6 separate regions of the Homo sapiens genome follow, and all the other regions are linked to region 1. The links come from fine-mapping of genetic effects on gene expression. A gene starts in region 1. Each other region holds a variant in brackets. All regions are shown on one strand. Distances are from middle to middle. Region 1 holds the start of CSGALNACT1 (chondroitin sulfate N-acetylgalactosaminyltransferase 1). Region 2 overlaps CSGALNACT1 (chondroitin sulfate N-acetylgalactosaminyltransferase 1). Region 3 overlaps CSGALNACT1 (chondroitin sulfate N-acetylgalactosaminyltransferase 1). Region 4 overlaps CSGALNACT1 (chondroitin sulfate N-acetylgalactosaminyltransferase 1). Region 5 overlaps CSGALNACT1 (chondroitin sulfate N-acetylgalactosaminyltransferase 1). Region 6 overlaps CSGALNACT1 (chondroitin sulfate N-acetylgalactosaminyltransferase 1).

Region 1 (4,097 bases):
TCCTGACCTCAGGCGATCCACTCACTTCGGCCTCCCAAAGTGCTGGGATTACAGGCGTGAGCCACCGCGCCCGGCCTCTATCTCTTTCTTTTAGATAACAGCTATAGAACCAATTGCAGCAACAAGGACGCCTCCTCCACCCTCCCCAAGCCTGTCCACATAGTCTAGAACCTGAGTCCAACCGTGTGTGTCTGTGGTGGGCCCTGGCAGTTACTGCTCAAGTCCTCTGGGCTGTCTTCCAGACCAGATTCCATGCTGAAACTGTATTTTCTAATTCTGCAGATATCACTGAGCAGAAGGACGGGAGATGCTTCAGGAGAGGAAAGAAAATCAATGCTTTGACAACACACCTGCCAATATAGGGAGGTGTAGGAATGCTTCGGTGGCAGTGGGAAGGCTCTGAAGAGGTTACTTGGTTACCCAAAGAGTGCTTGACTGTGAAGGTTCTAACCTTTACACAACTCATAACCAACGCCAGCCTCCATGTCCTGCCCTCCGTCTGCAAAATGGGGAGTATCATGATTTGCCTTAAGAGGGTGCTGTGTGATAATGTGGGAAGGAGCCTTGGCCAATGGCTTGTACCTATGTATGTGTGTACGTATGCTGTGTTAACTATTTATTACCTCCATTATGCAGCATTTTGGGGCAGTAGCAGAATAGACATATTTTTCATTCATTTGGAAAACACCCACTTCCCTGTTTCCCAAGTCTCAATTGAATTGCAGTGGGTATATTAGGTCACGAGGGTGAAGAGTTCACTCAGGGTGTGGGGTGGGGATAGGTCCACCTGGGGAGTCCAGGTGGGAAGCAAAACTTGCTTCAGGGATGCTTCCTGCAGGTAAGCAGGAGCTTAATGGAAACCGAGCTGCTTCAAGACTGTGCCTATAGCCTCAGGACTGCCTACCCTGTGCCCACAATAAAGTCTGGTGCGCCGGAATCTCCCAGATGGAGACTCTGAGCCAGGCAGTAGAAGGAGCCATGGCCAGGTAGTAGAAAGAGCACTGCCTCAGGAGTCATAGGACTGGTTTCCAGCTCCGGTTCTGCGGTGGCTCAGCCCTGGGGCCTCTGCAAGTTGCTTAACCGCATCTGCAGGTGATGACCTCTTCCAGTCTAACTGACTCCTCCTGAGTCCCCCTCAATTACACTGAAAATTGGCGATCCTATTTCCCAACTCCCTCTCCCACAGAGATGCGCTGGAGCACTTACAGATAAAAGGCGACCTGTGGCCCTGGAGGGTGCCTGCCTGTGTGTGCTGGAGGTGGCGGTGGATCTTTTATTACCCAACACTCCACTTGCCTTTTTAGCCTTTCCTCTCCCTCTTCTCTCCTGGCCTCCCAGTGGCCGTCAGGGGTCCCTGCAGACATCGCTTACCCACAGTGGTGCGGTGTGAGAGTTACAGGGGTTCCTGACCTTCGCTGTAAGTAAAAGCTCTCTAGGGGAGGCGTTATAGCTGACCAGGGCAGCAGAGACCGCGACTAAAGCGTGAATTCCCCGAAGTGCGATTTACAAAGTTTTTGCATGGAAGTCGGCGCTCGGCGGGGAGGGCAGCCAAGGGAACAGAGCGGGTGGAGCAGGGGGATGGGGAACTCTGTCCTGCAAGAGTAAGGACCCCATGGAGATTGGACACCTCTCTCCTGCAACTCGGGCCACGCCACAGTGTCCTAGTCTCTAAACTTCTCCGGCTCTTGGTGTCCAGTCACGCGTAAACCGCCCCTGGTGTCCGAGCGCGGCCCCTTCCGAGAGTGACAGGCTTCGGCCAGGGCGCCGCTCCGACGGGCGCAGGGACGCACTGCAGAGAGGCCGTGGGTGACGCGGAGGTACGCGGCCAACCGCGACCCCAGCCCGGCCTTGGCCGCCCCCGCCGGACCTACCCTGCGGCGGGGCGCCAGGCTTGGCCGCTGTTGCGCCCGCCCGCCCGAGCCGCCGCCGCCGCCGCTGCTCCCCGCCCCCGGGGTCCCTGGAGGCTCCGCGGCTGCCGGAGCGGGAGGTGGAGCCGAGTCCGCGGCGGCCGCGCAGGAGGGAAAGTTCAGCGACGGCGGCAGCGGCCGGAGCCGGGCCGGGCAGCTAGCAGGGCGCTTCGGGTGAGTCGGGTCCCCTCCCGGGCCAGCCGGGCGCGGTGTGCCGCGCGGGGGCGTCAGTGGCGCCGGCAGATCCCCACAGCCCCGCGCGCCTAGCTCGCGCCCGCCCACCCCGCGACCTCGGGGTGGCTCGTGCAGCTGCGGAGGACGGTGCCGCGCCTGGCCTCCCTCCGCCGCTGCCCGCCGGGGGCCCAGGGCACGGGCAGGGGCCGGGGACCGGCTTGGCAGGCGGAGGGCGCGGCGCCTCCAGGTGGGCGCGCGGGGACGCGGAGGGAGCTTCCAGGGAGGGTCCGGGGCCGCTGCGCTCCCGGGGTCGGTTTGGCTTCACCAGCGTTTCTCGTGGCCTTCCGCTGTCTGATTGCTTTCTGCAAAACCCACTGAAAAGTAGCCTTTCCACGTGCCGCGCGATGACTGCGGTTATTGTATTATTGTGGCTGGGATGGAGAGGGTGGAGGGGGCGTGACGAGGGTGGCCGGTGGGCAGCGCGCTCGCCTGCCCGGGACCGGGCTAGTGGGGGATGTGGCTGAGGGTCACCGCTGCCCGAACATGCCCAGGGGACGTGCGATCGGTGGGCAGAAGCTGTTCGAGGGCATGATCTTGGGGTGGGATGGGGGCTAGAAGGGCGGGGAGGAGAGGAAAGCTGTAGGAAGCGGAGGCAAAGTTGTTTGTTTCCGTCGCACTTCCTGCACCTGCATTCCTGTCAGAGATTTTGAAGTTATCTTTTCATCGATGAGCAAAGAATGGTGAGAAAGGAAGAGATGTTAACAGCACTGTGCCTGCCAAAACAGTGAGCCTCGGGAAATACTCATAAGTGAAATACTAATAAAAAGCATGGAGTGGTTAAATTTCACAAACTCCACTTTTCTTCTGGTTTCAAAGCCTTGGTGCAGTTTTTACTTAACGTCATTAGATACGTCTAGATAATAAAGGTAATGAAGTGTTCTTTCACGGTTTTTTTTTTTAAACTGGAAATTTAAATTTAATTCTGTAGGATTTCGTCGACATTGTTCCTACAAGAAAGTCAAATTACCTTGGTGTTACTTGCAACAGTGAGCATTAATAAGCCCTGTGCAGTGCTGAAATGTTGCTAATTGGAGGGAGAAAGGTCCTTCAAACTTGGAAATAGACGCAGAAAGGCAAGATGAATTTTTATGTAAGCCTTAGGCATAAAAGGCGACTTGAACACGTTTTGTAATAGTGCATAATACACAGGGGACTAGGTGTTGGGCTGCCGGAAGATGGTCAATTCCTAGAAAGCAAGAGACGGGCCATACCCATTGTAAGATCACCGTACATATTTAATAATTCGTCTGCCTTGAGCTGCCACACCATATGTACTCCACATAATACAATATCAAAATACTTTAATCCTGTTCATCTTTGTGTGCTAAATCTTATATGTCTATTTGTAAAATGTATTAGTGGGTTTTAAAGCAGAATCTCCGACATTTGGATTCATCCGTTTACATTACAGTGCAGTGAGCTTGTGTCTTTGCTGTTCCAGAGACCTGAGCTCCAGGCGGCTTCTTCCACTTATTAATTGCATGACCTTGGGCAAGTTACTTCCCCTTTCCTAGCCTTGGTGTCCTAATTTGTAAAATGCCAATAGTATTCCTCACCTTATAGAGATGTTTAGCAGGAGGAAATTACATTTGGGAACTTATCCTAGTGCCCCGAGCACACAGTATGCACTTCATAAATGTTGTCTTTTTTTTTTTTTTTTTTTTTTTTTGTCTTTCTTTACATTTAGGGATCCCCAACTCCAGCATGTTTCAACATTTAAAAAAAATTGTAAAAATTCCTTCTTCTTTGTAACCCTACTTTCTATTCATTTATCTATTGATTATTTATTGGAGAATCTCAGATACTGCCCAGTATAGGTGTTGAAAATAAGGAGTTGAAACTTTGGGGCAATACTTCAGCTTTTTCTTGTATCTTCCTAAGAATCCATCCTAAGTTCATATGATGATGAATGATACTTACCAATCTTCATGTTGCTCTAGCTCTGTTCTTAATGCC
Region 2 (4,097 bases), 300 kb after region 1:
CAAAAATCCCAGGGCAGTTTGCCTTGAGCTGATTCATCTCAGCCCACCATATGGACTTTTACTATTTGGATGTCCCTTGCTCGTGGAGGTAGGAAGGGATGGGTGGCGGAAGACTTGTGACCTGGAGAGGATGTTTTGAGAGCCTTTTGCATGTGCTAGACATGCTACCAAGGTGCAGGGGATCAGAAGATGAATTGAAGATGCGGTGCCTACTTTCACTAATAGCAGAAGCTGCAAATGCAGAGCCAGGCGCTGTGGCAGAGATACAGACAGGGGACAATGGGACACAAAGAGAATCTGGCCAGGACAGCTGACACTGGAGCAGGAGGCTGAGTAGGGAGTTTATGTCACAGTCAAGGCATTTCTGAGACTGTTGATGTCTCTGAAAAACTGGGATGCGAGAGGGTAAATACCTGTGGGTATTTAATGCTTCATAAAACCTTATTAAAGATGGCATTTCAAACCCAAAGAAGGGGTTATTCAGGGCATGGTGTCAGGACAACTAGCCAAACATAGCAGAAAAAAATGTGATTCTTATTTCACACCAAAAAAGCAAAGTAAACTCCAATTAAATAATTAAATGCAATTAACATGACCATAAAGTTACTGGGAGAAAATATAAAGGGCTGCTTAATAAATATTTGATGTTGTCTTTATAAATTCCTTTCCATCCCCAGACTGGAGACTGTGAACTGTGGTTGACACTGAGGATGACACTGGAAGCGATTTGTATTTCCTTTTTTGCCTCTGTTTTCTAAATATTTATATAGCTACCATATGTTTTATATTTTGTTTAAAGATTCAGTGAAAGATTATTTTTGGATTTTATAATTTAAACATGACTTTTTAGTTTGTAAAAGGTAATACTTGGCTATTATAAGATGTTTAAGCAGTGTAGAACAGCACGAGGAATAAATTATTTAAAAAGTCACTCCAGGTCTCACCTCCTAGAATTAACCCTTATTAACATGAGTTGAACATCACTTTGGGCAATTTTCTTTGCATATCTGCAGATAGAAGAATTGCTTGCCAGCTGGGAATAAGTCAGTGCAACATGAGATATACTATACATTCTATTTCTACTTATAGAATTAAAATGTATCTTGCTTAAATTTATAGAAAAAAACCGGAAGTATAATAAAGGATTTGCTGAACTTTAAGAAAATGTGTCTTCACTGTGAGAGACATTAGTTCCCAAGAGATCTCGCTGAAGTTAAAAAGTGATTTTTGCAAAACAAAAAGTGGTTGGAAATATTTTTTTTTTTTACTACATTTTGTAAGTTTGATTGAAACATTTCAGTACAAAACGAAATCAGCACAGCTACACTTTCTGCCTTCTGTGTCTCATCTTCTGATTTTTGTTAGCAATCATTTATTTATTTATTTTGAGACAGAGTCTCACTGTCACCCAGGCTGGAGTGCAGTGGCAGAACCTTAGCTCACCACAGCCTCCATCTCCCAGGTTCAAGCGATTCTCCTGCCTCAGCCTCCCGAGTAGCTGGGATTACAGGCATGTACCACCACACCTGGCTAATTTTTGTATTTTTAGTAGAGACTGGGTTTCACCACGTTGGTCAGGCTGGTCTCAAACTCCTGACGTCAAGTGATCTGACCACCTTGGCCTCCCAAAGTGCTGGGATTACAGGCGTCAGCCACGTGCCTGGCTGCAATCTGTTACTGTGACCTTGACAGGGTTACAACCTTTACATTCTACTTTATAACTACAGTTTCTGCAGTTCTGGATTTAAGTGGATTTAATGTATTCATCAGCAGTCCTCTTCCAATAGCTTTCCATTCCTGAGTTCTTAGTTGGCTATATTGTATGGTCAAGAAATTTTTTCAAGAAACGTCGCAAGTGTTTGAGAATGGAGTATATACTTGTTGTCATCGTGGACAGTCAGCTTAGCTGGGCTTAAAATTCATGGGACACACTGTCATTCCTCAGGACTTTGTAGATATTCTGGCATTAAATGATCTGGTGAAGTGTAAGACCACTTTACTTTGTCTCTCTCGTAAACGGCTTTTGCC[A/C]GAATGCCTGAAAAATTCCTTCATTAGTCTTTAATCACATTCACTTAATCAGGATATGTCTCATCTCAGCTTCTATTGTTTCCTCCCTCCCTCCCTCCCTACCTTCCTTCTTTCTCATGGAGGAGTATCACTCTGTCACCCAGGCTGGAGTGCAGTGGCACATTCTTGGCTCACTGCAACCTCTGCCTCCCAGGTTCAAGTGCTTCTCGTACCTCAGCCTCCCGAGTAGCTGGGACTACAGGTGCATGACACGACGCCCAGCTGCTTTTGGTACTTTTAGTAGAGATTGGGTTTCACCATGTTCGCCAGGCTGGTCTTGAACTCCTGACCTCAGGGGATCTGCCCACCTCAGCCTCCCAAAATGCTGGGATTATAAGTGTGAGCCACCACACCTGGCCAACGTCTGTTGTTCTTTAACTGATTTTCCTGTAGTACAGTTTCCTGTTTTGCTTTGTGGGTTCTTTCAGGGAAATTTTTGGATGCTTTATTTTTGAGTTCTGTTTGCTTCATTTATTGGATTCTCTGTTTCATGGACACAATTATATATTTTACAGGTCTTCTCCATTTATTAGCATCTCTGTTTTTTTAACACCCTTAGTCTTTTATCTGCTTTTACTTAAACCTTTATTGTGTCAGTAATTTGATTTTCTGACATATCTATTCTGTACCTTCCTATTTCTAATGCATTACTTCTGTGCATTTTGGCTGTTGATTTATTTTCCGAGCACACAGTGTGCCTGCTAATGTTATTCTGTTGTTTTATTGTTTTCTCTTTGGACTTTTTAAAAATTAAATTCATATTCTTGTTAATAAAGTGTGAAACATGTCTAAGAAATTTTCTTCTGTTTGAGTTACATTTTCTTTCAGACCCATTTTTTCTCTTGCTTTAGATGCTATTTCTTAACTTTTTCTTTTAATTTTATTCTGATTCTTGGGATGTGGTTGCTATGATTTCTTTTTTATCTTTTCTCATTACGTGCAGGGGACTACCCAGCCTTCTGTTTGCTCGAACATAGTTTGGGTGGATTCTCCTTGGCTCTCTCCTCATCTTGACTGAGAATTGTTGTGCATATTTTGAGGACAGGGTATTTCTCTGTTTAGTTTATTTGTAGTGTAAAAGCTGGGTGGAGGAGAGGAAGAACCCCCAGGGGCTTTGTGCAGCCTTTGTTGAAGTTCCCTTTTCTTGTGGCTCTTCTGAGCCCTGGGATGGATATGTGAGTTTTGCCCGGCTCGCTTGGTGTAGGGGGAATTAATTGTTTTCCCAAGGGGTAGAGGTATCATACTTGGCTCTCATAATGGCCTTCAAGTAAGGGTTGAGGCCTGGGACATCACAAAGAGTCAGTCCCACTTACTCACGTCTCCAGCTCACTTGCTCACTTGCTCATCTTCAGCAGCTCTTTCCACGCCTACCAGTCAGAGGAAAAAGGAAAGTTTTGGCTCTGTTTCTATCGCTTCTGTGGGATGTGGGGGAGATGCATATATGTCATCAGCTCTCAGCATGTCTCATCCCTTCTCCTCTAACTCTTCAGATAAAAGATCTTGACTAAATGTGATTAGCTTTTTTCCTTTGCTTATGTCAAATCTCCCCTTCCCTGCTTTTTTTTTTTTTCCCCCAGGGGTTAGTTCACAAGTAATTAGGATGGAATTACCTTCCCTCTCCACTTTCATTAAAATTTGTAGAAATACCAAAATAGCCTGCTGTGGCTCTTCCTGCTGCTGGTGCCAAGGTCCTAGGTGGAAGCCAAGGTCTCTTGTGTCTTCCCTAGGTCCCCCAGGCTGCCTTCTCTCACCTGAATCTGTGTCTCCTCTGTTTTCTCGCCAACGAGCTTCCCTTTTGGAGGCGGTCAGTGGGGCCAGGAGCCACAGGAAGCTAATGTAGAAACTTCCATTTCTTTCCTTGGTCTCCACTCTGTTGAAATTGACAGCAGAAGATTATGTCTCCCTCATTGGTCATTTATTGGTGGCAAAATTGTTGCCATTTTCAACTATTTTTGGCACACAGTTTGCAATGATTGCTATTTCAGATTAATGTATTTAAAGCATTATCCTTCCCATGCATCACCTTTAAA
Region 3 (4,097 bases), 330 kb after region 1:
GGTCTTGGTAATTATCAGAGGCTCTTCCTGATGGCAAGAGAGGAGTTGGAGGGGTTCTTTCAGATCACTGGTTTATTGGAAAAAAGCCTTGGGTTGAGGAATCAGGAAGGAAAATTGTACCATTATTCATCCTCAGACGGACCCCTAGCTGAGCATAATGACCTGGCAGCCACCCTGGGAAACACAGATGGATGACAGAGTTAGCACTCTGGGCCTTCTCCAGTGTCTGTGACTGCCTGATGGTGCTTCCCAAGCCAGCAGTGACTCTGTCCCCACCCTGCCTTCTGTGCACACTCATGTTCAGCTCTCTCATCAGGACCTGGTGAGTGGTCAGGGCTTCAGAGCAGCTCTAACATGGACCCATACTGCCAAGCCAGCAATGTTGCCTTCTGGCCAGTGTTGATCAGGGTGGATGAAAGTCCCAGGCAAAGCTAGATCAGGGCAGAGTCCTGCGTGGGGCAGGGAGAACAGGCAAGCCGAGGTGTCTGGTGCTGTGTGTGTGTGCGCCGGCCCCCATATGGTCCACATGGAAACAGTGCGTGGACAGAGCTGGGTACCACTTCCCAGGGCTTTCTGTGCAGCCTGTGGACACATGAAGTGAATTCAAAATGCATATTCAGATTGGGTAGTGCCATGGATATAACATGCATTGTCTTTTCCTTGTAGAAAGGTTGCATGAAGAGAAAGGAAGCAAATTGCCTTTTGCATTAGGCCATATAAAGTGTTCCCCAGCATCCATTTGCCTGAATTTTCTTTCTCTAGAAGCAACACATCATGGAAGCATAGGGATTTACATTTTAAGGCTTAAAAAAAAAGTTCTTCCAAATTAAGGTCATGTCAGACACTAGGTACCTTAAGTTCTTCCCACCCCTTTTCCCATGACTATGACAGGAAGCCCATCCTGTACCCAATCCTCTGTTGCAGCAGAGGAGAGAACAGCATTTATTAGCAACAGCTCAAGCCAGGGTTAGGGGATTCATGCACAGAATAAACTAGATTAACTTGTGCATTAGGTAAGCATGCACACCACCAAATTACCACTCTTCCCTCTAAATTTGTAGCACTGTCTCTACCGTTCACTCAGCAGTTAATCAATCACTTGTAGACTCGTCATTTCTTTCATGCTGTTTCCTCAGTTTCTAACACTGTCTTGTATTCTTATTTAATTACTCAACATGATTTAACTTTTGTAAATATTTGGCCTATCTATACAAATGGACTGTAGGCTGTTCAAGGGGGAGATTCTTGATGTCGCAGCTCATTTAATGCAGCCTATTAAGAGCCTATGTTCTTCTTCCCTTGGCAAAAGTCACTTGCTGTTGTTCAGGTATTTTTGTAGTTGAACTCTCCTGTAGTAGATCCTAGAAACCCTCCTGGAGAAGGTACCTGAATTATGAGTCAGGTGCAACCTGAGTGAGGAAGGACTTGCTCATACATTGTGTTTGTGCTCTGAAAGTTAGAAGATATCCCTGTATAATGGGGAGGAAGAGGTCCCAAAAGATAGGAACCTGGAAACAGCGAAGAAAGAGAATTGCTACTGGCTGTATATATTAAATACATAGAAAGTTAAAGCAAGATGGACTCCAGGATCAGGTGCCTTTAGATGAACAGGTAAAAATCCAGGCATCTCCCATGGGTAAACCTTTCCTGGAAACTGACCAAACCGGGAAGGGAAAAATGGGTTGACCTGACTTACAGGAGCTGGGGCTGCAGACACCTCTAAGAGACATGAAGGTGCTCGCAGTGACCTCACACCATCTGAATGTCTTTGGAGACGGGAGGATAGCGTGTCCTTGACTGGTGCCATACCTAATACTGAAAA[G/T]GTTTTGAGCATAACTTCAATGCAACACACAGAAAATGTGCAATGGGGGCACCCCCCCAGAGAAAAGACTCAAGATAAAGTTCTGAAAGAGGAAGAGAATCCCTGCAAATGTAGAGTGGTGCTGAAGTGAATGCAGGATCATAGGAAAAATAGAGTCTTGTCCAGGTGTGGTATCTCATGCCTGTAATCCTAGCACTTTGGGAGGCCGAGGCAGTAGTACCGCATGAAGCCAAGAGTTGGGCAACAAAGTGAGACTCTGTCTCTATAAAAAATTTTTAAGAATTAGCTGGGCATGGTAGCATGCACTTGTAGTCCCAGCTACTTGGGACTTGGCTGAGAGAAGAGGATTGCTTGAGCCCAGGAGTTTGAGGCTGTAGTGAGCTATGATCATGCCACTGCACTCCAGCCTGGGTGACAGAGCAAGACCCTGTCTCTAAAAGAAAAAGTGTATTATATACAAGTATATATAATGTACATATGTAAAGTAAGTTTTTTTAACCAAAGAAAAATAGCGTCTTAGTGTGTAAAGGGGAATTTGAGCTCTGTAACCACTGGATTTTGTACCTGGAAACAGAGACAAAAGGGGTAGAGTGACTTGCCTCAAATCCATCAGAGGCACAGCTAGGTTTAGAATGATTCATACATTCATACACTCATTCAGAAACATCTGTTGAACACTTATGGGGCCCCAGGCACAGTTCTAGTCCTGGATCCAGGTTTCCAGACTCCTAGACCAGTGCTCTACCCATCATGAGGCCTCCTAACCTGATCCAAATCTGAAAGGCATGTTTGGCATCAAACTCTGACATGGGCTCACTGATCCCTAAGATAAGAATCCAAGCTCACTCCCAGATCCAAAAGAAGAAGATGAGTCAAGGAGGGAGTCGCAGAACTAGTTTTACTGATTCAATTCCAGATACAAATACAACTTAGCATTTTAAAAGTTTATGACTCTATGTTTGCGTTGGCCTTTACCCGAGACGGGTACTTGGAATGCAAACTTTACAAACTGGAAATGAGTTTCTGTACCTTTTGGAAAGAAACAGTAGAGAGAAGTTGGGGCATGGGGATAGGCCAGGTAGCTGGTAGGACGGGGAGTGTGAGAGGAAAGGAAGCCATTAGGAAAAGAAGGGTGTCGTTGACAGGAAAAGGGATTTGCTAGGCTGAAAGAAGACTGAAGGTGGTTCTCTAGTATTATCTGGTAGAAGACAATACCTGTCCCACTGGGCATGGAATGAATTCGTGGAACGTTAGCTTAAGACAGGCCCCATTTCAGAAGGTTCTGCTGTCCCTGGGAAAGAACAACGAATGCGAGAAACATCCTGGCTTCACTGCCTGGGGCCTGGGAATCCTTGCCCATGCTAATCACAGCAATAGCTGATGCTTACAGAGTGCTGTATACTCTTGGCACTGTTTATCTCACTAATAACCCTGTGGGATAGTGAAGGAAGGTGTTACTACACCTATTTAGCAGATGAGGCAACTGAGGTTCAGGAAGATTCATGGGCTGGCCTAGATCACAGAGCTATCTGTAGGAGAGCCAGGCCTGAAACAGTCCTCTTCTAACTGCAAGTTGGTCATTTTTCCTGCCATGCTGTGCTGCTTTACCCGAGGATGCGGAAGGAATCTGGGTTTAAATCTGTTTGGAGGAAAGATTCACATCAAGAACATTTTGCCTGGCTCCTGGATGTGAATGCAGATGAAAAGATGCTAAGTGGGGCCATTGCAATGTGATCTTATTTCCTTGGCTCAGTGGCCTCATTCGGTTGGCTCAGGATGCACGAAGATTTTCCAGGGTTGTGTTTCTAGTCTTACCTGGTTCAAGTTTTCTCCATCACAAAGAATAGTCATTAATGATGACAAGAGTGTTTTCAATACGGGGAAACTGCCAGAGAAACAAGGAAGAAATTAGTGTTAAAACTCCACTAGGTGTTCTTGGTACCTTCGATCCCAGTGAGTATCCTGTGAGTCTGGGCCGTTCTGTAACTTCTTGGGGAGTCCCAGTGCCCTCAGGTTACAAAAGAAATGGGTCAAGATGTGGATGGGCCCTGATTACATATTTTCTCAGGGGATGCTGCCAACATGTGGGAATGTGAGTGACAGTACCTGGTCTTGCCTTTCAGAGCTGCCAACTTCAGGAACTTTACCTTCATCCAGCTGAATGGAGAATTTTCTCGGGGAAAGGGACTTGATGTTGGAGCCCGCTTCTGGAAGGGAAGCAACGTCCTTCTCTTTTTCTGTGATGTGGACATCTACTTCACATCTGAATTCCTCA
Region 4 (4,097 bases), 240 kb after region 1:
TGCTTTTCATTTAAAAGAAAGCCTTACTGAGGACTCCCATACCCTTACTATTTGCCTAAGTGATTGCTTCTTAACTCCTGTATCAGAAAGTACTTGGCTGGGGAGTGTTGCTCATTTTTAAATTAGTCCCCTCTTTGTTAATTAACAGCATGCATTTCTCTAGAAGCTGTGTGATGCTACCTCAGACCCTGATCTCTCCAGGTGCTTACTTTCCTGAGTCTTGGAGTCTCCCCAGTGCCAGGGCTGGTTTCTGCCTGCACAGAAGAATGTTAGTTTGACACATGGCCATTACATGGGCATCTACTTTTGCAGTGCTCTAGAGGAAAGAAGAGAGAACTGAGTGTGATATGGTTTGGCTGTGTCTCCACCCAAATCTCATCTTGAATTGTAGCTCCTATAATTCCCACATGTTGTGGGAGGGACCTGGTGGGAGATAATTGAATCATGGGTGTGGTTTCCCCTATAATGTTCTCCTGATAGTGAATAAGTCTCAGGAGATCTGATGTTTTTGTCAGGGGAAACCCCTTTGGCTTGGCTCTCATTCTCTCTTGAGTGCTGCCTTGTAAGACGAACTGTTCCCCTTCTGCCATGATTGTGAGGCCTCCCCAGCCATGTGGAACTGTGAGTCCATTAAGCCTCTTTTTCTTTATAAATGACCCACTCTCGGGCACGTCTTTATCAGCAGTATGAAAACAGACTAATACACAGTGTTTTGCAGGAGAGCCTTCCACAGTGATCACTTTAACCCTTCTAGAGATATTCTCTTTTTCTTCTTTTCTTTTTTTTGAGATGGAGTTTCACTCTTGTTGACTATGCTGGAGTACAGTGGTGCAATCTCGGCTCACGGCAACCTCTGCCTCCCAGATTCAAGCGATTCTCCTGCCTCAGCCTCCCGAGCAACTGGGATTACAGGCATGTGCCACCACACCCAGCTAATTTTGTATTTTTAGTAGAGATGGTTTTTCTCCATGTTGGTCAGGCTGCTGATCTCGAACTCCCAAACTCAGGTGATCTTCCCACCTCGGCCTCCCAAAGTGCTGGGATTACAGATGTGAGTCACCATGCCTGGCCCTCTTTTTCTTCTTTCAAAGAACATTTCTTAGTTGCTTAAAAATTCTACTTGCCGTGATGCTTTTTAGTTGAGATGCTTCGAACTTGATATGTGAGTATAAACTCCTGGCGTCTTACACCCACATATCAGGTTTGAGGCATCTCAACTAAAAACCAACCACCTCTCCAGGTGGGCAGTGGGTCATGGCCAAAGTAGGGAATGGAGAACAGGAAATAAATGTGGCTGCAGATTCCAGCTGGAAATGGAAACTCCAGGAGCAAAGGCAGCACTTGAACCACTGAGACTGCCGTGGCCGCTGTGTTCACCTCGATCCCCAGAAAGCAGCCACTTCCAGCATCTCACCCCCTCCTGGGGGCTCCCATCATGGAAGCCTAAGGGCCAGGCCCAAGGAGTAATGGGTGACATTCCCCCAGCCCACCCAGAGCCTGGTCTGTGGAGGCCACACGGCTGGAGGGTCTGGTGGAATCACTTAGAAACACTTGAATGTTGCGAAGATATTCTGCCTGGCCCTAGTTGCAGGGACAGAGCAAGGCTCACACCGGGATGGGGATTATTTGTCAGGATAGTGTGAGTTTGCCTAGCTGTTGAGAGATGTGTAAATGCAGATCAC[G/A]GCTACATGGGGGTACAAAACATTTTAACTAGAGAAGCAGTGATTCATGCCACGTTTGAGGGGCCAGGCAAGCTCATAAATAATATTTATGAGTTCAGAAACAAGAAAAATTGGACACGCTGGGTGTAGAATGAGGAGCAGGTCTCAGCAAGCAGTTTGAGATTATGAAGCGGGTTGAACAGTATAGCGTAGTGGGTAAGAATCAGACGGAGCTGGGTTTGAAGCTGGGCTCTGCTACTTGCCAGCTGAACATCTGGGTCAAGTTACTTCATTGCTTTAAGCTTCAGTTTCTGTTTCTTTAATGGGGTTAATAAGATGTAGCTCATAGGATCGTTTTGAGGATTAAATGAGATAATATTTGTGAAGTGCTTTGTATGATGTCTGGCCCCAACGTAAATGCTCACTAAGTGCTTGTAATTATGAACGAGGGGAGGGTGTTGGAAGGCTGGTTTCATGCGGTTCTCAGTTTGGGGTGAGAACCGGCACCAAGAGCCCCAAAAGACTCCGGGAGTCAGGTCTCCTTGCGGGGTTTGGCAGCTGACTCAGCCCCACATGTGTGCTTGAGATGTCTTACAGCTGGAAGAAGCGTCTTTATTCTGTACACCTGGCTTGAGTAGCATCTTCTTATGCCAGTGTCCTGCCCTCATTGCACCTTCTGGGGTCCATGACCACCACCCATGCCAACTACCTGCCTTAGGTCTTCCTGAAGCAAGGGTGGCAGTTGTAAGGAATGGGACTAGACGGTCTGGCATAGACAGGAAGCCCCTCTCCATCAAGCCTCCTCTCTAAAAGTTTGCCAGCAAATTAAAAATCAAAATAAAAAAAAAATAGGACTTGAGTCTGTTTCTTGACCTTTTGGTGCTTGTGGTTGTGATCAGTGTGCTTTCATTTTCTGATTAGCAGGTGCCAGCTTCTTTTTGCCACATTTCCCTTTTTCTGCTTCAAGGCAGGGAAATTGAATCAGAATTCTTTTACTTAGTTATTTATTTTTTTGATTTACACTTATGTGTTTATTCTCAGTTGCTTTTCTATTGAGAATTCTTTTAAAAGACCAACGAGGAGTTGAGGGGATGGAGGATCCCTCCCAACTAGGGAATTCCTGACTGTGAAGTCATTTGCAAGCCCATTCCCCTGGGCTGGGTCAGTGCTGGTCCCTGGAGAACACGCCCTCTGAGTCTGCAGATAGGGGGACCTCACAGGGAAGACTCAAGGAGCATCTTGAAGGCTGAGCCTAAGTCTTTTGGGTGAGGAAGGAAGGGAAGTGGGTTGTGGGTGGAGTCCCGGCAGTTTGGTCACATGGCCTGACAGCAGGTGCTGAGGACCTGAGATAGAGATAGTGGGGTCCAGAGGCAGGAAAGGACATGGCCTGACAGCAGGTGCTAGGGACCTGAGATAGAGACAGTGGGGTCCAGAGGCAGGAAAGGCACTCTGAGGCTGGGTTCCCGAAGGAATGGGGGATCAAGGCATGATCCTGGCACTGGGGACCTGGAATCAGTTGTGGCAAGAGCCCTGCCCCAAGGACACTTGTAATGCAGTCAGAAGATCAACTACTGGAAACCTGGAGCTAGGTATCTGTGGGCTCCAGGATGGTCCATCAGGGTGAGACAATATTATTTAAAAATATTTTACGCTTTATTATTTTAGATATATTGTAAATACATAATACTACATTATAAAGCTTGTATTTAATATTTTATTTTTATTTTCTTTTGGAGACGGAGTTTCACTCTGTCCCCCAGGCTGGAGTACAGTGGAGTGATCTCAGCTCACTGCAACCTCCACCTCCCAGGTTCAAGTGATTTTCCTTCCTCAGCCTCCCAAGCAGCTGGGACTACAGGCATGAGCCACCATGCCAGGCTAATTCTCTTCTGTATTTTTTTTTTTTTGGTAGAGACGGGGTTTCACCATGTTGGCCAGTCTGGTCTCAAACTCCTAACCTCAAGGGATCTGCCCACCTCAGCCTCCCTAAGCACTAGGATTACAGGCGAGAGCCACTGTGCCTGGCCTGTATATAATTTTTAAATAGATACATGTATATATATATATATATATATATATATATATATATAGTCTCTGTTCAAAAGTCATATGATGCCTGAAATGTGCTATTTTTGTTTAATTAATGTTTGGAGACAGCTGGTCTTGAGTATTGAGGAAAGAGGAGGAAAAGCAGCAAAACTGCTAGGGCCACCAAGGCAGCTGTCCACACAGATTGCTGTCTGTGTGAAACCCGAGCCAGTACCTGTGCTAAGTAGCTCGGTGTCAGGGCTGGAGGGGGTCAGGGAAGAAGGCTTCAGATCCTTCCACAGCCAACTCCAAACTCTTGGCATTTAATTGTTGACTCCCCAGTGGGACCCCTGTCCTCTCGCTGGGATTTGGCTCAAGCACCTCTTAGTGCATACACAGTAATACTGA
Region 5 (4,097 bases), 68 kb after region 1:
TTAGTGGTATTTTCCCTTTTGGTCCAAATGACCCTGGTAGCTGAGGTTGGCTGTGTTGTCAAAAACAGTGAGATCTAGAAGCCCTGCTCAGCGGTGTTTGGGAGGAGGCCTGTGCATCGTTGGCTGAAATTTATGGGGAACTTCCCAGGAACCCAGCTTGACCCCTTTGCTCACCACCTGCTGCCTGGAGCATTACCCCCACACTCAGACCTATCTGTTTTCTCCTTCGGGCGTGGCCTCTTGCCTTGGCTGACATTTCATTTTATGATAAGCCGCAGAGAGTTTTATTTGTGTTTTTCTTCTTTTCTTTGAGACTAGGTCTCACTCTGTTGTCCAAGCTTGAGTGCAGTGGTGCAATTGCCACTCACTGCAGCCTTGAACTCCTGGATTCAAGCAATCTTCCTCTCTTGGCCTTCCTAAGTGCTGGCATTACAGACATGAGCCACAGTGCCCAGTGCCATGGAGATTTTTAATAAGGCAATCTTTATTAATGGTTGCTGTGGTCATTGCCAGTGACCTTCACAGAGTCGTGAAATCTTTTGCTTATCCCTGATCTCAGACATCTGAACAACAAACTCTAATTTCCCAAATTACCCGTTGAGCAAAGTAGTCCTTAGGAAGACCTAGGCTTGCAGGATAGAAAGGGTGGGATAACACACCCCCTCCTTCCATGCGGAGTTTCAATCACATATTATTAATTCAGAGTATCGTTATTGCTCCATCTGCAAACTGCAAATGTGAATTCCAGCCATGTATTTTTAAACAGCTCTATTATGATCAAGCAAATTTGAACCTCTCATGTAGTTTATTACAAGTGGGCTTTGGTTATAGAGGAAAAAAATCTGTTTTATATATGTTTTCTATTTTGTCATTTTTGGTAAGCTGTAGTCAAACTCTGAGTTAGGAGAAAGATGAGCTCTTTGACTATTTAATAGTTCTATATATCACACTTGTGGTAGCTTTTGTCATTTTTTTTTCTTAGCAGAAACAGAATGTTAAGGCCCAAAGTAGAGATATCTAAGTCCTGGGAGCAGGATGATATTAGAAATACTGATGAATTTATAATAGTATGGAGAATTAATCTGGATAACGAAGATTTTAAAATAGCATTACTTGGCTATAAATGCAGTTAATGTTGCCTTCTGGAAGGAAAAGAGGTAAAATTATATCTTCTGTTACTTTAGCAATTGATTTGAAAAGTATTCATGTATTAATTGTCCACTCAATATTAGGAAATGTATTAGAATATAACTGCTTTGAACCTTTTCCAAAAAAGTTTTATCCAGATTGTAGTAAATTTATACCTGCAGTTGTCTCTACAATATAGTGTTTTATTTGTTGAGTCCTGTTAAAATTCAACACATTTAGTTTGAAACTCAAATTGGCTTTAATGATTAGTGATTCATGAACTGGGCATCATTTCATCTAAAGATGCAGAAAAGGGACTCTGGATCAGGCATTGGCGGTTGGTTTTTAAAAGGTGGCTTGAGCAGGAACAAGAAAACAGCATAGCGCAAAAAAGCAGATTGTTAATATCAGGTTACTCTACGTCACTTTCCTTGTAAGGGTTCAAGCACAGGGGACTTCTTTATGCTAAAACTTGCT[G/A]TTTGGGGATTTAACTAGCATCTCTCTCTCTTGATTTCTCAGGTCAGATAAATAGCTTAGTTTTGGTTTGGTGATGTGGAACTTTAGCATGAGTGACTCTATTTTGGTTGGATCTGTTGAAGCCTAGAGCAGGAGCTCAGTCTAAATCAATGGCCTCCTATAAATCTTAATAGTTTAATACATAGAAAATTCTCAGCATCTTTCTCATAGAATTTTTAAGCAGAAGCCAGAATCTTTTATAGTCGTGTGTATCAGTTATTTATTGCTGTGTAGCAAACCTCTTCAAAACAGTGGCTCAAAACAACAGTTATTGAGTTCGGAAATAGGCAACTTGGGCATGGCTAGGCATGGAAGGTTTGGGTTCCATGCAGTGTCAGCTGGGACCGTTCAGGGGGCTGGAGAATCCTCTTTCAAGATGGCTGCTCAAAAGGCTGTTGACCAGAGCTCAGTTGGGGTCCAGGGCCGGGGTCCTGGTTCCTCTCCAAATGGCCCTCTTCATGTAGAACACGCCATGGGCTGCCTGGACCTTGTCATACCATGGTAGCTGGGTTATAAGAGTGATTGTTCCAGGAGAACCAGGTGGAGAACTATAATACAGTCTTTTATGACATCGTCTTGGAAGGCACATGGCATCGCTACTGCTGTGCTGTACTCCTTGGCCCAGATTGCAGAGGACGGGGCAATAGGAGATGGATTAAGAGGAGAATCAAAGATTTTGGTATGTTTTAAAACTGCCATACTCCATTAGAAGCCTCTCATTAACATTTACCCTAGCCAAACTGTGGCTTCTAAATGAAAGACTGATCACTTGTTGCTAAGGTGACACTGCACTGTTATCCATAATTACGTGGACATGCATGGCTGCACGTCCAGATAGGAATCAATTTTGTCCCAGTTAGGCGAGTCCTGAGCAGTGTTCATTATCTTCGGACCATGGTGCATGTGGAGGAGGTTGGCGAGGGCAGTTCTGTTGGGATGGTAGGGATGGAAGTCAGACTGCTGGGCTGCTGGGAACAACTGGGAGATGATGATCTGGAAGCAGCAGGTGTAGACGATGCTCTCAGAGTGCTTAGCTGAGACAGGAAAGAGGGAGAAGGATACAGTGGGCTGAGAGAGCTTTCATATTCCTATCTATTTTATCAGCTTTTTCTTTTTTTAAAATAAAGATGAGAGAATAGGGTGAAGGGAAGGAGTCAATGCAAAGTATAAGGTGGCATTGTTTCTATCATGTATGTGACATAATTTCTGGATTTTAAGTGCAGGGCTCCTGGCACAGCACATATACAATGGGCACTGGTTAAACATTTGCTTTAGAACAAAGGAATTCCACCTTTAGAAAAATGTCACTTAGCAATTGCCCACCACCTGCGTGACCCCTTGCCTTCCCCTTCAGGGTGTGGCCACTTGTCTACCATTTTGTTTTATATTAGACCAAAGAGATTTTTTTTTACAGAATCAATCTCCCATGTGGATGGATGCTGCAGCAACCCTGGTGACGTCCCTATAGGTATGAATTGTTCTCCTCACCCTGATCTCAAAGATCTTACCAATCAACTCCATCTATTTCCCTAAATTACCCATTGAGGAAAGCAGCCCATGGGAAGACACAGGGCTTCAAGAAGGCCCCACCGATGTCTCCAGGGACCAAATACTGATCTAGTCAGAGAGTTGTTCACTCTGGGGGTGTCAACTGGCCATGTGTAAAATGGGAAATGAACACCTACTTCAGAGGGATGTTTTGAGAGGAGGGCTGTGAGATTGATGACTCCTATAAAGTAGATTCTAAACGGTAAATTGTACCTTGCAAACCACAACACGGATGTAAGAAACTGATTATTTGTCATCCTGTAAGTCAGTGGCTGTTTATGTGTTCTCAGAAACTTGATTCTTTTTCCTCTGAGGGTTATACAGTATCTGCTTCAGTCACTTTTCCATTTACTGACTTCTACAAGAAATTGTCCTGGAAGTGTCAGCCATTGAAAAACAGCAATAATTTTTGCTTCATGATCTACAGTTGTAATGGACATAGTAATAATAGTATTGTCTTTATGTAGTCTTTTTCTTTATAAGGAGTAAAGATCAAAGACTAGAGTTGATAATAGGTGAATGGAGTTTCATTTCTGGAACTGCATGTCTTTAAAAGCCAAATTTTCTCTGACATGTGAGAAATGGTTGATATTTCAGGAATTATATTAGTGTGGTAATGGACCAAGGCATACAACATGGACGGAGTAACATAATCCAGTTTATACTTTGTGCTAATTAACTTCTATGTGAAAAGAACTTCCATTTTAGTTAATTTCATTTTTTTTTAGTAATTTGCATCACATCTGTACGGCATTGTACATTGAGATTGTTGTGATATGCACATATATAATATATTTTAGTGGGGCATCTCTTTTGGAGCAGCTATACTCTTTTTCTAAAGCAAAACTTCTGATGGGTCAGAGGATGAGACATTGATTACCTAAGTTTTTCTGCCTAGTAGAGGA
Region 6 (4,091 bases), 52 kb after region 1:
TCACACCTGTAATCTCAGCACTTTGGGAGGCCAGGCAGGGAGAATCACTTGAGGACATGAGTTCAAAACCAGCCTGGGCAACATAGCAAGATCCTGTCTCTACAAAAGATTTAAAAAAATGTAGCCAGGCATGGTGGTGCATGCCTGTAGTGCCAGCTACTAGGGAGGCTTGGTGAGGAGGATTGCTTGAGCCGGGAGTGCCCACACCTGATGTCTGGGGTTTGGGCTTCACACACAAGGAGGAGCCTGACCTGCAGATGCTCTGGTAGGTATCCCACTGCCAACATTTATTATTGCTATTTACTTGTTCCCCATTAAAATGATTCCTCTTCTTCCCTTGTGGTTGGAGGCTAAAGAGATGTCCTTCTGGGTGTTTTGTGGACTTGGGGCTAGGAAAAGGCACTCCTTTAAACCTGATTCAGTGTATTCCAGTGTCTGATTTTAGTGCCTGTGTTATTCAATTCCTTGACCTCATGGGCTGCCGTGGCTCCACTGCTCTCTTAGGTTTCCCCAGCCTCCGCCGCAGTTTTCCTTTTAGGAAGTAACACTTCCTTTGAGGATGTGGAGGAAATTCTCTTTATGACAATACAGATACAGATTGAGCCTGGCTTCAGTTCACAAACCACAGGGACAATGACTGCCTTTTTGTAAAATACCTTTAGAGCATGAAGCAGAATTCTCCCTAATCTAAATGAATTAACTATGACATTGGGGAAGGCTTGGTGAGTTCACAAAGACATAAGGCCTCACACAGCTGTCCCCCGTTGTCATCCTTGCATGCTATTTGCTTTGTAAGGGCCCTGTATGATTGGGAGGTGGAGAAATCTATTTTAGTTTTTATTTGATCTGATTAGTATTTTTCCATGTCTGGGTTTATTTGTAGCTACTGCACCTCCAGATTTTTTTGCCTTTGTCTTCATGTTGGAGGGGAGGTTCGGGGATTCAGATAATCAAGTAATACAAGGTAATTGAAGATAATCGAGGAAATGAAAGAAAATGAAAATTAGTCGTGCCCTGTCATTCGATTATTCAGCTTTAACTAGCATCAACATTCTGGAATGTTGCTTTACTTTTATGTTTATGGTTGTATTTATATATTAAACATCTATTCATAATATGTCATGTACAATTTTTGAAACTCTAGCCTTACATTTTTTTCTCTGGATTTTTTTTTGAGACTGGGTCTCGCTCTGTTGCCTAGGCTGGAGTGAAGTAGTGCGATCTCAGCTCACTGCAGCCTCCCCCTCCCCGGCTCAGGCAATCCTCCCACCTCAGGCTTCCGAGTAGTTGGGACTATGGGCATGCACCACCATGCCCGGCTAATTTTTTGTATTTTTTGTAGAGATGGTGTTTCATCATATTGCCTAAGCTGGTCTTGAGCTCCTGGGCTTAAGCCTCCTGCCTCCTGCCTCAGCCTCCCAAAGTGTTAGGATTACAAGTATGAGCCACTGTGCCCAGCCTTCCCTGGATTTTAAAATTCAAATGATGAGCTTTTTCCTTCTAAATATTATTCAAAAACATGTCATTGAATGGATGCATAAAAATGCATTAGAAAATAATTATTGAACATTTAAATTGTTTCCAGTTTTTCCCTGAGTTAATGGAATTCTTGATGTAAGTCTTTGCATAAATAGCTACCCTTGAGTTACTATCCTTAAGGTAGAATTACTGATTTACTTTCTATTTGTTTTTCCCCCAAGTTTATTGAAGTATAATTGGCAAAAATTACATACAGTTAAGGTGTACAATGTGATGCTTTGGTATATGTTGTGAAATGATTACCATAATCAAGCTAATTATCACCTCACATAGTACCTTTTTGTGGTGCAAATACTTAAGATCTACCCTCTTAGCACATTTTAAGTGGGCAATACGTGTATTAACTACAGTCACTATGATGTAGGTTACCAGAACTTATTCATCTTGTAATGGAAAGTTTGCATCATTTAAGCAAAATCTCCCCATTTCCCAACTCTGTTTTCACACAGTAACTACCCTTTTAGTCTGTTTGAGTTCAACTTTTAAAACTTCCATATTGAAATGAGATTGAGCAATGTTTTTCTTTCCATGTCTAGGTTGTTTCACTTAGCATAATGTCCTCCAGGTTCATCCTTGTTATCACAAATGGCAGGATTTTCTACTTTTTTAAGGTAAATAATATTCTGTTTTATGTATATATCACATTTTCTCCATCCATCCATCCATTTATCCACCCATCCATCCATCCATCCGTCTATGGGTACTTAAATTGTTTCCATATCTTATTGTGAATAATGCTGCAGTGAAAATAGTGCAGGTATCTCTTTGAAAAAGTGATTTTATTTCCTTGTGTATATACCCAGAAGTGAGAGTGCTGGATCATAGAGTAGTTCCATTTTTAATTTTTGAAGAACCTCAATACTGTTTTCCATAATGGCTATACCA[A/G]TTTACACTCCTATCAACAATGTATATGGATTCCCTTTTCTCCAAGTCCTCGACAACACTTGATATTTTTGACTTTTTCATCACAGCCATCTTAAGGTGTGAAGTGATAGATGACTGTGGTTTTGATATGCAAGAAATTTATTTTTAAAAAGTATTAATGGTACTTTGGAAAAATTCAAAATTTCTTCTCCATCTAACAATATAATATCGGCCTGGAAGGGTCTGTGATTCAAATGCCCTGTTACCTTTCTTCTTTCTCCTTTGGCAGCACATTCGTTTAGTGCCTTGTTTTTCCAGGGACTGGGGGAAATGGAAGAGAGGAAAGGAGGGAGAGAAGAGAATAAGAATGATCCATGTAATTATGTAATTAACCATCAAGCTTGGTTAATTCAGAGCATTCTCATTCTTTCATTCATTCAAAACTTTAAAAAGTAAGATCTCCCATGTGCAGTGTAGTGTGTTAGGCTTACTGAGTGGGGCTGGAAGAGCAAATCAGACATAGATGATACCCTCAAGGGTCTGACAGCTCTCAGGAAAGATGTCACTGCCAGATATGCACCCGTACTATGTAAGAGGCTCCTGAGAGCTGCGTGTAGGATAAGGGAGGAAAGCCAGTGCATGGGCAGTTTCCTAAAAAACACTGTTAATTGTAACGTACTTTGTAGAGAACTAAACTTAATCACAAAAATTACTTGGTGTAGAATATGTTGTTCTGAGTGAATGAATCTGATAACTTTGTATCAATCAGGGAGACATGCAGACCATGAGAGGATTTCTTGTATTGATTAAACTTTGTTTTACTGTGGAAGGTGCTGTGCAGTCAGTAGTAACCAACTCTCCAGTTACCTGAAGGTCTGAGGAGCACTAAAAACAAAGAGAGGGCTGGGCATGGTGGCTCACACCCACCGGTAATCCCAGCACTTTGGGAGGCCCAGGCGGGTGGATCATGAGGTCAGGAGATCAAGACCATCCTGGCTAACATGGTGAAAACCTGTCTGTACTAAAAATACAGAAAATTAGCCGGGCTTGGTGGCAGGTGCCTGTAGTCCCAGCTACTCAGGAGGCTGAGGCAGGAGAATGGCATGAACCTGGAAGGCAGAGCTTGCAGTGAGCTGAGATCCCGCCGCTGCACTCTAGCCTGGGTGACAGAGTGAGATGGCGTCTCAAAACCAACCAACCAACAAACCAAGAGAGGTCAGCCTGTTCTTATTATGTAACAACTTCGAGTGGCTCAAATCCCAAGTCACATGCCACGTCAATGGCTCCTTCTGAACAAGGGCTGAGCTGCCATGGGTCTAGTTGAGAAGGAAAAGCTCTCGATTTCAGGGTCTTGGGTTATTTTGGTAATAGATCAGAAGACAGTAGCATCCTATTGGAGGGACACTAGTGAGCACTTCCCAATGACCTCCCTTCTTCCCCTGCCTCAGACATCCATAGGGTTACAGGTTTCCCTTTTGAGCTTGAATTCTGTCCACGGTGATCATGTTGATCAGATGAGATATAAAGGGAAGTGAACCCACACCAGGAAGGGGGCTAAGAGGGGTGTAGGGGAAGAAGTGGATCTAGTCATTGGCCCTGGTCTAAGTGGGGGCTACTGGGTGGGGGGCTGGGCTACACTGATTCCCTTTAGGGGAGACCCTGAAACCCAGAGCTTTTCCTTCTGCACT

Evidence for each region. PIP is the estimated chance that this variant, and not a neighbour inherited with it, causes the effect.
Region 2: its variant is the best candidate, but not a certain one, in a credible set for the expression of CSGALNACT1 in prefrontal cortex (BrainSeq, PIP 0.79).
Region 3: its variant is the best candidate, but not a certain one, in a credible set for the expression of CSGALNACT1 in skeletal muscle (GTEx, PIP 0.65).
Region 4: its variant is the best candidate, but not a certain one, in a credible set for the expression of CSGALNACT1 in esophagus mucosa (GTEx, PIP 0.72).
Region 5: its variant is the best candidate, but not a certain one, in a credible set for the expression of CSGALNACT1 in left ventricle (GTEx, PIP 0.85).
Region 6: its variant is the best candidate, but not a certain one, in a credible set for the expression of CSGALNACT1 in whole blood (INTERVAL, PIP 0.62).

What each region holds. Positions count from the first base shown.
Region 1 is chr8:19,755,170-19,759,266 of GRCh38, reverse strand. It overlaps CSGALNACT1 (chondroitin sulfate N-acetylgalactosaminyltransferase 1), which reads left to right and starts at 1,990. Exons shown (of 9, transcript NM_001354483.2): 1 at 1,990-2,081.
Region 2 is chr8:19,451,959-19,456,055 of GRCh38, reverse strand. The region is part of intron 4 of CSGALNACT1 (chondroitin sulfate N-acetylgalactosaminyltransferase 1); the gene reads left to right. Among named protein-coding and RNA genes, the nearest start is that of SH2D4A, 140 kb to the right of the region's middle. The variant A/C (reference allele first, on the strand shown) is at 2,029.
Region 3 is chr8:19,420,367-19,424,463 of GRCh38, reverse strand. CSGALNACT1 (chondroitin sulfate N-acetylgalactosaminyltransferase 1) reads left to right here. Exons shown (of 9, transcript NM_001354483.2): 6 at 3,946-4,097. Among named protein-coding and RNA genes, the nearest start is that of SH2D4A, 110 kb to the right of the region's middle. The variant G/T (reference allele first, on the strand shown) is at 1,823.
Region 4 is chr8:19,514,130-19,518,226 of GRCh38, reverse strand. All of the region lies in intron 2 of CSGALNACT1 (chondroitin sulfate N-acetylgalactosaminyltransferase 1), which reads left to right. Among named protein-coding and RNA genes, the nearest start is that of CSGALNACT1-AS1, 160 kb to the left of the region's middle. The variant G/A (reference allele first, on the strand shown) is at 1,683.
Region 5 is chr8:19,687,305-19,691,401 of GRCh38, reverse strand. The region is part of intron 1 of CSGALNACT1 (chondroitin sulfate N-acetylgalactosaminyltransferase 1); the gene reads left to right. It overlaps CSGALNACT1-AS1 (CSGALNACT1 antisense RNA 1), which reads right to left. Exons shown (of 2, transcript XR_007060841.1): 2 at 1,840-2,678. Among named protein-coding and RNA genes, the nearest start is that of CSGALNACT1-AS1, 11 kb to the right of the region's middle. The variant G/A (reference allele first, on the strand shown) is at 1,606.
Region 6 is chr8:19,702,820-19,706,910 of GRCh38, reverse strand. The region is part of intron 1 of CSGALNACT1 (chondroitin sulfate N-acetylgalactosaminyltransferase 1); the gene reads left to right. Among named protein-coding and RNA genes, the nearest start is that of CSGALNACT1-AS1, 26 kb to the right of the region's middle. The variant A/G (reference allele first, on the strand shown) is at 2,425.